Linked DNA regions of Homo sapiens: all the other regions are linked to region 1. Evidence: fine-mapped expression QTL. A gene starts in region 1. Each other region holds a variant in brackets. All regions are shown on one strand. Distances are from middle to middle.

What was found. PIP is the estimated chance that this variant, and not a neighbour inherited with it, causes the effect.
Region 2: its variant is the best candidate, but not a certain one, in a credible set for the expression of MCM4 in whole blood (INTERVAL, PIP 0.79).
Region 3: its variant is the best candidate, but not a certain one, in a credible set for the expression of MCM4 in whole blood (INTERVAL, PIP 0.67).

Annotation. Positions count from the first base shown.
Region 1 is chr8:47,958,954-47,963,210 of GRCh38, forward strand. MCM4 (minichromosome maintenance complex component 4) reads left to right here and starts at 1,988. Exons shown (of 17, transcript NM_182746.3): 1 at 1,988-2,061; 2 at 2,178-2,261; 3 at 2,563-2,727; 4 at 3,100-3,263; 5 at 3,352-3,453; 6 at 3,811-3,906; 7 at 3,992-4,087. The coding sequence starts at 2,192. PRKDC (protein kinase, DNA-activated, catalytic subunit) reads right to left here and starts at 1,183. Exons shown (of 86, transcript NM_006904.7): 1 at 1,020-1,183. The coding sequence starts at 1,173. RefSeq lists an enhancer at 652-811 and silencers at 992-1,041, 1,052-1,351, 2,022-2,421.
Region 2 is chr8:47,880,962-47,884,961 of GRCh38, forward strand. PRKDC (protein kinase, DNA-activated, catalytic subunit) reads right to left here. Exons shown (of 86, transcript NM_006904.7): 37 at 951-1,136; 38 at 455-559. Among named protein-coding and RNA genes, the nearest start is that of PRKDC, 77 kb to the right of the region's middle. The variant T/C (reference allele first, on the strand shown) is at 1,904.
Region 3 is chr8:48,015,526-48,019,805 of GRCh38, forward strand. All of the region lies in intron 1 of UBE2V2 (ubiquitin conjugating enzyme E2 V2), which reads left to right. Among named protein-coding and RNA genes, the nearest start is that of UBE2V2, 9.2 kb to the left of the region's middle. The variant C/A (reference allele first, on the strand shown) is at 1,680.

The DNA.
Region 1 (4,257 bases):
TCCATCTCCTGACCTCAGGTGATCCAGCTGCCACAGCCTCCCAAAGTGCTGGGATTACAGGCATGAGCCACCGCACCGTGCCACATATAGCATCTAGTTTAAACTGTTTAAGTTATTCCTACACCATATTCACTACTAGACCCTCCGGAAGAAAATCTCACCTTTTAATAGGGCACAACATCAAGGTCTGCATACTCGTGTTTTAAAGAAGGAATACAGGAGATCCACATAATTAAGTATTTGAATATTTAAAATGCTAAAAAGAGGCACTTTTACTACAAAGGGGAAAAAGTTCCCACCCAGGCATTGCTAAAGAGTTAAAAGAACATGACTTCAATTACATTTCTTCAATTTTTCTCAAAGTAGGAACGGCAAATAGAGGGGTTTGGAAAAGGTACTGGTGGGATTAGGCGAGATTCAGGTGAAAGAAAATACTTTCTCTTGGCCGGGCCCGGTGGCTCACGTCTGTAATCCCAGCACTTTGGGAGGCCGAGGCGGGGGGATCACGAGGTCAGGAGTTCGAGACCAGCCTGACCAACATGGTGAAACCCCATCTCTACTAAAAATACAAAAAAATTAGCCGGGCGTGGTGGCGCGCGCCTGTAATCCCAGCTACTCGGGGGGCTGAGGCAGGAGAATAGCTTGAACCCGGGAGGCGGAGGTTGCAGTGAGCCGAGATCGCGCCACTTCACTCCAGCCTGGGCGACAGAGCGAGACTCCGTCTCAAAAAAAAAAAAAATTATTTCTCTTGCCCTGCCCCCCACTCTGCATAGCAATGATTGCCATATTAGGGGTCGTTTTCACCAACTTTGGCTTTAAAATATCTTTCCTCTAATACTAGGGGGTAAAAAGCAGTATGACAAATCCCTTTATACACATACACAGAAATTCCCCCAAGAATCTAATTGCTGTACTTCAAAATACCGTCATCTAAACACAGAGAAGCGCCGGGCTGCCCGGCTCCAGAACGACTCGGGAAGCCAGGACCCACCCGCGGCCCAGCTCGGGCCGGTACCCACCCAGCACCGCGGGGCTGCTGCTCAGGACGCATTCCTGCCCCAGGCCGCGGATCAGTTGATGACCGGCCAGGGCAGCACCGCAGCGGTCCGCAGCGGACAAGGTCTCCTGCAGCCGCAGCAGGGAGCAACGCACACCGGCTCCGGAGCCCGCCATGCCGCCGAGTCCCGCTCCCGCGCGTGCGCCCGCTCGGCCCGGACCCGGAAATGCCCCTACGCGCGGAGGCGGGGCTGCGGGGCGCGGCGGCAGGAACTTTCCCGGGGACCCCTGCGGGAAGGCCTGGCCAGTAAGCGCGCCTCTTTGGCCCGAATCAACATGGAAACCTAAGGAAAAACGTCTGACCTGCGGAGGTAGTTTGGGTGGCTACTTGGTGTTGGACTTGGCTAAATAAATACCAGAGGCAGATAAAACAAGCGAGGGGCCTAGGTCAAGAGTTCCAAGTTTGTTCCTCGATAAAAAACGACAAACGCGGTCGGGGGCGGTGATGCCCGCCTGCAGTCCCAACACTTTAGGAAGCTGAGGCGGGGGGATCGCAGGAGTTCGAGACCAGTCTGGGCAACATAATGAGACCATCCCCACCACCTCCCGTCCTTAATTTTTTTTAATAAAAAAAATCTTTAAGTGAGAAATGCATCTGTAATGTCCTTATTAACCAAAAACGCCTAAGGGATAAAGAAGCACACGCTCCCTAGCCAACGCTAGAGGAACACACCCCGAGAGCTGGTGCTGTAGGACCCAGTTTTCCCGCGAAAACGCTGCCGCGCAGGGGGTCAGACCATCTGGACCAAGGGGGGCCGAGCGAGGCCTACTTCTGGTTTACGCACGGGCGCTGAAAGAAGCGGCACTGTCCCCCCCTGCCGATGCGCAGTGGCGCCTCCCGGAGGCGGAGCCACGTACGAGCGCCGCTGTGATTGGTGAGGCCCCGCCAGGGGCGGAGACGACCTTGCCGCCGGCGGGAACTCTGGGTCTCGCGGTTTGGGAGCGCTACTCGCCAGGTGGACTCGGAGTCCGCGAGCGTCGTCGGCAAGCGGCCGCCTTTCCACGGTAACCGCGCGCCGGCGGGGAGGGCGTGGCGCGGAGCCGACGGGAACGTCCGCGCTGCGGAGCAGGGCAGGGAAGCCGGGAGGCGGGCCCGGCCCGAGCTTGTCCTTGTCGCGCAGGTACTCCGAGCACTATGTCGTCCCCGGCGTCGACCCCGAGCCGCCGCGGCAGCCGGCGTGGAAGGGCCACCCCCGCCCAGACGCGTGAGTCCCCCGAGCCGGGCCCACTACAGCCCCCGGCGCCGCCCCGTCTGCCCTCTCGCCGCAGCTGGCAGCGCTGGGTGGGTGCGCGGGACCCGGGCGCTCAGCCTCGGGCTGGGCGCTGCCGCTTGGTGCGCACAGACACCCACAGCAGGCTGTGGCCTGGGTGCTGCTTAATTCGATTGCCATTTGCCTCTGTTTGGTTTGGTTCAGTGGTGAGTCATAATGCCCCAAGGAAAAGACAAATCCAGGAAGGCCGGCCCTGAAAGTTAATGGCTGTCTTTTCTGTTTTGTGTGACACAAGCTCGGAGTGAGGATGCCAGGTCATCTCCCTCTCAGAGACGTAGAGGCGAGGATTCCACCTCCACGGGGGAGTTGCAGCCGATGCCAACCTCGCCTGGAGTGGACCTGCAGAGCCCTGCTGCGCAGGACGTGCTGTTTTCCAGCCCTCCCCAAATGCATTCTTCAGGTGCGTGTCTGAAGATCTTGGTTTTGCTGTGCTTGATACACAGCTGATGCTTTATCTGCTCAGGTTTACTGGCTTTATAACAGTTGGCATAACGCCTAAAGCATCCCCTCTGCACGTGACTGAGCATGTTCTTAACCAGAGGAGCTGAACGGAGTGCAGAAAATAGTAGTTTTAGGGCTTAGTGAGCAGAGGAAGCAGCTTCTCTGGTGCTTTTTTTTAATAGAACATTTAAGAGTGCTCAGAATCTCAGCCACCGCAGGTTGCAATAAATATTCAGTTTGCTGTTGCGATTAGATGGTATAGATCAACAGACAACATGCTGTAATTTCAGGTTTGATATGCCACCAGAATTTCCTAATTTTGTTTTTATAGCTATCCCTCTTGACTTTGATGTTAGTTCACCACTGACATACGGCACTCCCAGCTCTCGGGTAGAGGGAACCCCAAGAAGTGGTGTTAGGGGCACACCTGTGAGACAGAGGCCTGACCTGGGCTCTGCACAGAAGGGCCTGCAAGTGGATCTGCAGTCTGACGGGGTGAGTATGCAGTCTCCTGAAACCATCTTATGGCGGGTATCATGTGGGTAACTCTGTTTTCATGATTCTGTCATGTTTTTCTGTGTAGGCAGCAGCAGAAGATATAGTGGCAAGTGAGCAGTCTCTAGGCCAAAAACTTGTGATCTGGGGAACAGATGTAAATGTGGCAGCATGCAAAGAAAACTTTCAGGTGAGCTACATGTATTAAAATTCTTACTTTGGGCTCTGAAAATGTTGGGAGACCGTGTTTATAATCTATATCTAAGTAGCCATAATGACTAGAAGGGCCACCTGTGGTGGCTCACACCTATAATCCCAGTACTTTGGGAGGCCAAGGTGGGAGGATCACTTGAGGCCAGGAGTTTGATAGCAGCCTGACCAATATAGTGAGACTCCATCTCCAAATTAAATTTTAGAAAAGAAAAAGGAAGAAAAATATTATTTATTTCTGTCTCCTGATAGTGACATACTCATAACTTTGTGTGTTTTTAGTAGTTGCCTGTTCCCAAATGCTATATGCCTAATACAGTTTTCTCTCCACTTAAAGAGATTTCTTCAGCGTTTTATTGACCCTCTGGCTAAAGAAGAAGAAAATGTTGGCATAGATATTACTGAACCTCTATACATGCAACGACTTGGGGAGGTAATCAAATACTCTTTAAATTCAAGTTACGTGTTTTAAAATAGTTAAATTAGCAAAATATAACTTGTTCATTTTTATTTTCTAGATTAATGTTATTGGTGAGCCATTTTTAAATGTGAACTGTGAACACATCAAATCATTTGACAAAAATTTGTACAGACAACTCATCTCTTACCCACAGGTAAGAATTTAGCTTTGACCTTGATGAATTTTAGTAACAGTCTAGAAAGAATGTTTCCAGATAACAGAAATTCTTCAGTAATGAAGATAGTATGCGCAAACACTTTAAGAAACTGAGTATCATCTCCTTTGGCCCGGTGTGGTGGCTCACACCTATAATCCCAGCACTTT
Region 2 (4,000 bases), 78 kb before region 1:
ACTTGAACCCAAGAGGCGGAGGTTGCAGTGAGCCATGATTGTGCCACTGTACTTCAGCCTGGGTGACAGAGCGAGACTGTCTAAAAAAAAAAAAAAAAAAGAAAGCAAGAAAGCAAGAAAGCAAGAAAGCAAGCAAGCAAGCAAGAAAGAAAGAAATGTTCTCATGTCTTGGAGAGGCACACTGAACTGAAGCAGATACAGGTCAGATAACACACCCGGCCTGCTTGGCCTTCCTTGCCTGCTGACGGGTGGGTTGACCGCACAGGTGAAACAAACACACCCACACAGGATGGTTATCGAGACTGGCTAATAAGTACGGGGGATTACTGTGCTAGTCTCCCTACATTTGAACACGTTTGAAATTTTCCATAATAAAAAATAAAAAACATCACAAATAAAAAATACGAAAACAGAAGAGAATGTAATCCAAAAAAATAAATATTTCACTGTTTACCTTTAAATGTAGATCCAGCTTTGTGTCAGCAAGTAGACTAATATATGTTGTAAAGACTTCAGGGAATGAACCATGACTTGTATTAAAAGATACAGATGAATCAATCTAAAGGAAGGAAAAGAAAAACAGGACACATTTGTATATTACATCTCTATTTCCTTTAGCCCATTGCTCAAATGTTTAAATTCCAGAAATGAATTGTTAATTTAATTTTGGGCTTCAATAATATTTTCACAATCTTATTGTAAAACATTGTAATACTATCTGTTAGGACAATACATGCAAAGGTACTTTAAAAAGATATAGCATAAGAAATAGTAAGTCTAATAAATAATGGAAAAAGTTTAAAAAGGTAAATATAAGCAACCATCCTGTCAAAATATTTTCTTATTTGTCAAACCAATGAGCTTTTGGAGCAACCTCCATCAAATTTTAAAGACACAAGTTACAGAGTTCAGAAGAATAAACATGACTGCTTTTTAAAGGAATTGAATACCTGTAAAATTTTTGCCAGTAAGGCCAGCACTGCCATTTTAGTTTCGAGAGGGGAATCTTTGGCCCACCATGAATCACACTTCTTCCAGTGTTGCAGAATTGTAGTCGCAAGTTTCAGTCCTTGGTGTTTCTGGTTTGCTCGCTCCCTGAAGCTCTGGTCTAACATGCCGTTCAAAACGGCACTCACCTGAGACAATTTCGTTGTGAGTGAAGAAAAATTCTTAATTTTGAGAATGACAGAAAACAAAATTTACCTTTATTTCAAAGCTATTCTTGGAAAATAAATAAGCTATTTCTATAATAGATGTTTATCTACTTCAAAACTCCTCGAGTTTGATTTGAGGTACACTTTAACCATAGTTTTTCCACAAAGTACAGGGTGGCCTTAGCTATGTCATCAGGCTCATCCAGCTTCTCCTGGCTTTCCTAGTCTGCGCAGTCTAGGAAAAAGGAGTCAGCTCTCTTCTGTCACCACCACCACCACTGTACATGCATGCACAAGCACACACAGGTGTACACGCACAAGCACACAAATATGCACATATGCACAAATGCACACTTCCTATCCCACCACCACTGTACATGCATGCACAAGCACACAGATGTACACACATAAGCAAACATGCACCCAAGCACATACTTCCGGTCCCACCACCACCATACAGGCACACACTAGCACACACAGGTGTACACACACAAGCAAACATGCACACACGCAAACGCACACTTCTTGTTCAACTACCATCATACATGCACACCCACATTTTCTGTCTCACCACCACTCCTGCAACAGAGTGACAGGCTAATTTTGGTCAGATTAACATGCACTATTCCTGTCATTCTGACTATGCAAACATTTTTCACAGATGTTCCAAGTAGAAACAATGCTTTTCCCTTTTTGCACATTTTGTACTCTCTGAAGCTAACCTTGTTTGCTTTCATTGCTCTTTTCAA[T/C]GTGTCTGTCATTAATTCGTCATCAAACTCTCCCAAGTTATGAAATTGCTGCAAGCCCTCTAAGCCTATCAGGTCTATCTGCCCCATTTCTGTGGCAACTCAGCTCTTGATCTGCAATGCTGGTGCTGGACCTGGTGCTGGGCCATCCACGCCTCTGTGCGGGGCCGACATACTGTATCCAGCACCTTCCCCTGTCTTGGCTCACTGCCTGATCACTCTCTACCCAGCAGCATCGTGATGAGAGTGCACAGGGACCTCTTGGGGATCTGGCATGTCTAAAACATCTGTATTCCACTCTCACATAATGGATAATCCAGCTGGATTCAGAACTCTAGGCTGAAGATTTCTCTTATGAACTATGGAAGAAATCTGGTTCAAGTCTTGCAATGTCCACACTGCCGCTGAGAAGACATATGTCATTCAATTTCTAGATCCTTTCACACATAACTGCTTTTTCTCCAGTGGAAACCTGAGAATCTTTTATTGTAGTGAAACCCCACGGTTCTGAATTCTCAAGAAATGTGCTCCACGTGGAGCTGTTTCTGTGCACCATGCTGGACACTCCATGGCCCTCTTCTACCTGGAAACTCAAAGCCTTTGCTTCTGGGCTCCTCTGGAGCTGTGTCCTCAGCAAATGCCACTCCTGACCCCTGCCCTCCGGAGCCAAGGCCCTGCTGCTCAACCTCATGCATGAATCCCTAGTCTCCTCCTCTTTTCTCTCGTGTTTTCTGTTTTGTCTTTCACTCTACTCTCTGTGAGAGTTACTCAAGTTTACCTTCCAAACTCATTTCATTTTTAATTTCTGATGCCTATGCTTAATTCCCAAGAGCCTTTTTTGTTCTCTGATGTTCATTCTCCATAGCAATTCTTATTTCACAGTTTTGTCTCTCATCTTTCAGTTTTTTTTCTCCAGCTTACATTTCCATCTCACTGAACAGGCCTTGCCACAGTTGCCTGTGTCCCGCTACGCCCTCTGGCGTCCCTTTCCTCAGGTGCCTGAGCCCCTGGGCTGCCGGCTCACAGGTATCACCTGCCTGGAAGCGCTGTGCAGCGTGCAGGGCTCGCTGGTGGGGAGGATCACTGTCACTGACCCAGCTGGCTATGATGCCTGCATCTTTATTTTCTCTTAGGGCTTGTCAGGATATTCTGGTGCCCTGCCAAGGGCAGATGCTGAACTGAAAGTATTCAGAGGGAAAGGGCAGACAGCCTGAAAGTCTAGAATTTAGGTAGGTTAGTACTTAACTTTCCTCTTTTCCTGATGGTATCCACATATTCAGCCATGCCAGAGCCCCCAGTCTGGAGGTCTCTATCCTCTCCAGGGAGTCACTGCCTCCTGCCTTCTCCTCAAGTGGGGAGGATCAGACCCCCAGCAGCAGAGACAGGAGGCTGCCCTGCAGGGGAGAGCTGGCCTTTGCCCAATCCTCTCTTCTCAGCCTCTGCTCACCCCTGCTCGCATGTCTGCCCTGCTGGGGCTCAGCACGTGTGGACCCCAACTTCCGAAGGCTGCATCACCTCGCTGCTATCTCAAACTCTGCATGCAGTCTGCCACACCTGTCCTTTTGATTTACAACTCTTGTCACTCTTGGAAGTCCTTTTCTCTGTGTCCTTTGAGATTGTAGAGGTGTTTTAAAAATCTCATTCTGTTACTTTAGAGGAATTTAGGGAAGGAATAGAGGTCAAAGGCGTATGTTTTTTCTATCATTTCCATCAGAGGTCATAGTTTAAGAAATCAGAATGTTAAATCTGAGTGTCATCTACTACGATTTTATTTCTAATTTTAAAGAATACAAATTCCTACTGCAATCTACCACAAAAGATTCCCCTACAACAGAAAAGCACTGTTTGCAATAAAAGCTCAACTTAGGACATCATGTACTCTCCCTTAAAATGGTCATATCAACAGTTAACAGTTTCTGTCCACAGAACAAGTTAAATTTCAAAATCCCAGAGGTTTAGCAAACGAAAGTCAACTATATATTAAATACTGATCTCCAGGGAGAAAGGGGGACACAGCAGGAACATGCCAGAAATGATAACTCAGCATCGAGGCCACAAGAGAACTCTGAGAACAGAGAGGTCTACCGGGGTGCAGAGACC
Region 3 (4,280 bases), 57 kb after region 1:
TTTTTCAAGAATACAGTATGTTGTTAACTAATCACCATGCTATACAGTAGTGCTCTTAAACTTGTTCCTCCTGACTGTAATTACGTATCCTTTGTCTAACATCTTCCCAATCCCCACCCCCGTAACCCCAACCATCCTAACCTCTGGTAACCACCATCTCCTGTCTACTTCTGTGAGATCAATTTTGACTCCATATATGAGTGAGATAATATGTATTTGTCTTTCTGTGCCTGTGTTATTTCAGTTAACATAATGTTCTCCAGGTTCATCCATGTTGTTGGAAATGAGAGAATTTCCTTCTTTTTTATGATTGGAACAGTGTCCCACTGTATACGTATACCACATGTTCTTTATCCATTTGTCTGTGTGGTTTTTTTTTTTTTTTTTTTTGAGACGGAGTCTCACTCTGTCACCCAGGCTGGAGTGCAGTGGCGCGTTCTCAGCTCACTGCAACCTCCACCTCCTGGGTTCAAGCAATTCTCCTGCCTCAGGCTCCCTAGTAGCTGGGATTACTGGCACCCGCCGCCAAGCCCGGCTAATTTTTGTATTTTAGTAGAGATGGGGTTTCACCATATTGGCCAGGTTGGTCTCAAACTCCTGACCTCAAGCAATCCATCTGCCTCGGCCTCCCAAAGTATGGGGATTACAGGCGTGAGCCACCGCGCTCAGCCTATCCATTTGTTGGTTGATGGATACTTAGGTTGATTCTATATCTTGCATATTTTGAGTAGTGCTGCAATAAAATGGGAGTGCAGGCCTCTCTTTGACATACTGATTTTATTTTCTTTGGCTATATATGCAGTAGCAGGATTACTGGATCATACGGTAGCTCTGTTTTTAGGTTTTTGAGGAACTCCATACTCTTCTTTCTCCATATGGTTGTACTAATTCACATTCCCACCAACAGCATGCTTAGATTATCCTTTATCACCACATACTCACCAACACTTGTTATCTGTCATCTTTTTTTTTTTGAGACGGAGTTTGGCTCTTGTTGCCCAGGCTGGAGTGCAATGGCATGATCTCGGCTCATTGCAACCTCCACCTCCTGGGTTCAAGCAATTCTCCTGCCTCAGCCTCCCGAGTAGCTGGGATTACAGCCACGCACCACCATGCCTGGCTAATTTTGTATTTTTATTAGAGACGGGGTTTCTCCATGTTGGTGAGGCTGCTCTCGAACTCCCAACCTCAGGTGATCTTCCCACCTTGGCCTCCCAAGGTACTGGGATTACAGGCGTGAGCCGCCGTGCCCAGCCTTTTTTTTTTTTTTTTTTTAATTGAGACAGAGTCTCGCTCTGTCGCCTAGGCTGGAGTGCAGTGGCGAGATGTCAGTTGACTGCAACCTCCACCTCCAGGTTCAAGCGATTCTCCTGTCTTAGCCTCCCGAGTAGCTGGGATTACAGGCACCCGCCACCATGCCTGGCTAATTTTCATATTGTTAGTAGAGACATGATTTCACCATGTTGGCCAGGCTAGGCTGGTCTCAAACGCCCGACCTCAGGTGATCCACCTGCCTTGGCCTCCCAAAGTGCTGGGATTACAGGCGTGAGCCACTGCGCTTGGCCTCATCTTTCATCCTTTTGATTATAGCCATTTTAATGGGAGTGAGGTGATACCTCATGTGGGTTTTTTTTTGCATTTCTTTGATGATTAGTGATGTTGAGAATTTTTTTCATATA[C/A]CTCTTGGCCATTTGTATGTCTTTTGAGAAATGTCTATTCAGATCTTTTACCCATTTTTACATGAGGTTATTTTCTTGGTATTGAATGGAGTTCCTTATATATTTTGGTTATTAACCCCTTATCAGATATATAGTTTACGAGTATAGTGAACCATTCTGTATGTTCTCTCTCTCTTTTTTTTTTTTTTGGTGGAGTTTCGCTCTTGTTGCCCAGGCTGGAGTGCAATGGCACGATCTCAGCTCACTGCAAGCTCTGCCTCCTGGGTTCAAGGGATTCTCCTGCTTCAGCCTCCTAAGTAGCTGGGATTACAGGCATGTGCCACCATGCACTGCTAATTTTGTATTTTTAGTAGAGACGGGATTTCTCCATGTTGGTCAGGCTGGTAATAAACTCCCGACCTCAGGTGGTCTGCCTGCCTCAGCCTCCCAAAGTGCTAGGATTACAGGCGAGAGCCACCGCGCCTGCCAGTTCTCTCTTTATTGTTTCCTTTGCAGTGCAGGAGATTTTTAGTTTTATGTGATCCAAATTGTCTGTTTTTGCTTTTGTTGAGTGTGCTTTTGAGGTCATATCCTCCAAAAATCATTGCCCAGACCAATGCCATTGACTTTTCTTCCTGTTTTCTAGTAGTTTCATAGATTGCCTTTTTTTTTTTTTTTTTCCTGAGACAGTCTCAACCTGTCACCCAGGCTGGAGTGCAGTGGCATAGTCACGGCTCGCTGCAGCCTCAACTTCCCAGGCTCTCACCTCAGCCTCCCGAGTAGCTGGGACTACAGGTGCACGCCACCATACCTGGCTAATGTTTTGTATTTTTAGTAGAGATGGGGTTTCGCCATGTTGGCCAGGCTGGTCTCGAACTCCTGACCTCAGGTGATCCACACGCCTCGGCCTCCCAAAGTGCTGGGATTACAGGTGTGAGCCACCATGCCCAGCTGCACAATGCCCAATTTTGCCACTTCTGTTCAACATAATACTGGAAGTCCTAGAAAGAGCAATAAGACAAGAGAAAGAAATACAAGGCATCTTAATTGGAAAAGAAGTTAAACTGTTCCTGTTTGCAGAAGACATATGATGTCAGTGTTTATTGTTATAAAAACTTCTGTCTTAAAACTGCTTTTGCTGTATTCCATAGGCTTTGTATGCTGTGTGTTTCAGTTTTCATTTTTTTCAATAAACTTCCTAATTTGTTTTTTAATATCTTCATTGACCTATTGGTTGTTCAAGAGCATGTGTTTAACTTCCATGTTTTTGTGAATTTTCTGAAGATCCTCCTGTTAATGATTTCTAGTTTTATACCATTGTGGTCAGAAAAGATATTTGATATGATTTCCATCTTCTTAAATTTGTTAAGACTTATTTTGTGGCTTGACATATGATCTATCCTTGAGAATGTTCCATGTGCAGCTTAAAATAATGTATTATGCCACTGTTGAATGGTATGTTCTGTGTATGTCTTTTAGGTCCATTTGTTCTATAGTGTAGCTTAAGTCTCATGTTTCCTTGTTGGCTTTCTGTCTGCATGATCTGTGCATTGCTAATTGTGAGGTGTGAAAATCTCCTACTGTTACTGTAGTACAACCTATCTTTCAGATCTATTAATATTTGCTTTATATATTTAGGTGCTTTGATGTTGGGTGCATATATATTTACAATTATTCTCTTGCTAAATTGACCCCTTTGTTATTACATAATGACCTTCTCTATCTTTTTTTTACAGTTTTTGATTTAAAAATCTATTTTATTGGGGGCCAGGCATAGTGGCTCATGCCTGTAATCCCAGCACTTTGGGAGGCCGAGGCGGGCGGATCACTTGAGATCAGGAGTTCAAGACCAACCTGGCCAACATGGCGAAATCCCATCTCTATTAAAAATACAAAAATTGGACCAGGAGCGGTGGCTCACACCTGTAATCCCAGCACTTTGAGAGGCCAAGGCAGGTGGAGCACGAGGTTGGGAGTTCAAGACCAGCCTGGCCAAAATGGTGAAACCCCATCTCTACTAAAAATACAAAAATTAGCCAGGTGTGGTGGCGGGCGCCTGTGACCCCAGCTACTTGGGAGGCTGAGGCAGAGAATTGCTTGAACCTGGGAGGCAGAGGTTGCAGTAAGCCGAGATCACGGCACTGCACTCCAGCCTGGGTGACAGAACAAGACTCCTGCTCAAAACAAAACAAACAAAAATTGGGCGTGGTGGTGGGCTCCTGTAGTACCAGCTACTCGGGAGGCTGAGGCAGGAGAATCGTGTGAACCTGGGAGTCGGGAGATTGCAGTGAGCCTTGATTGCGCCACTGCCCTCCAGCCTGGGCAACAGAGCGAGACTGTCTCAAAAAAACGGCAGGGCATGGTGGCTCATGCCTGTAATCCCAGCACTTTGGGAGGCTGAGGCTGGCGGATCATGAGGTTAGGAGTTTGAGAACAGCCTGACCAACATGGTGAAACCCCGTCTCTACTAAAAATACAAAAATTAGCCAGGCGTGGTGGCACATGCCTGTAATCCCAGCTACTCAGGAGGCTGAGGCAGGAGAATCACGTGAACCTGGGAGGTGGAGGCTGCAGTGAGCCGAGATTGCGCCACTGCACTTCAGCCTGGGTGACAGAGCTAGA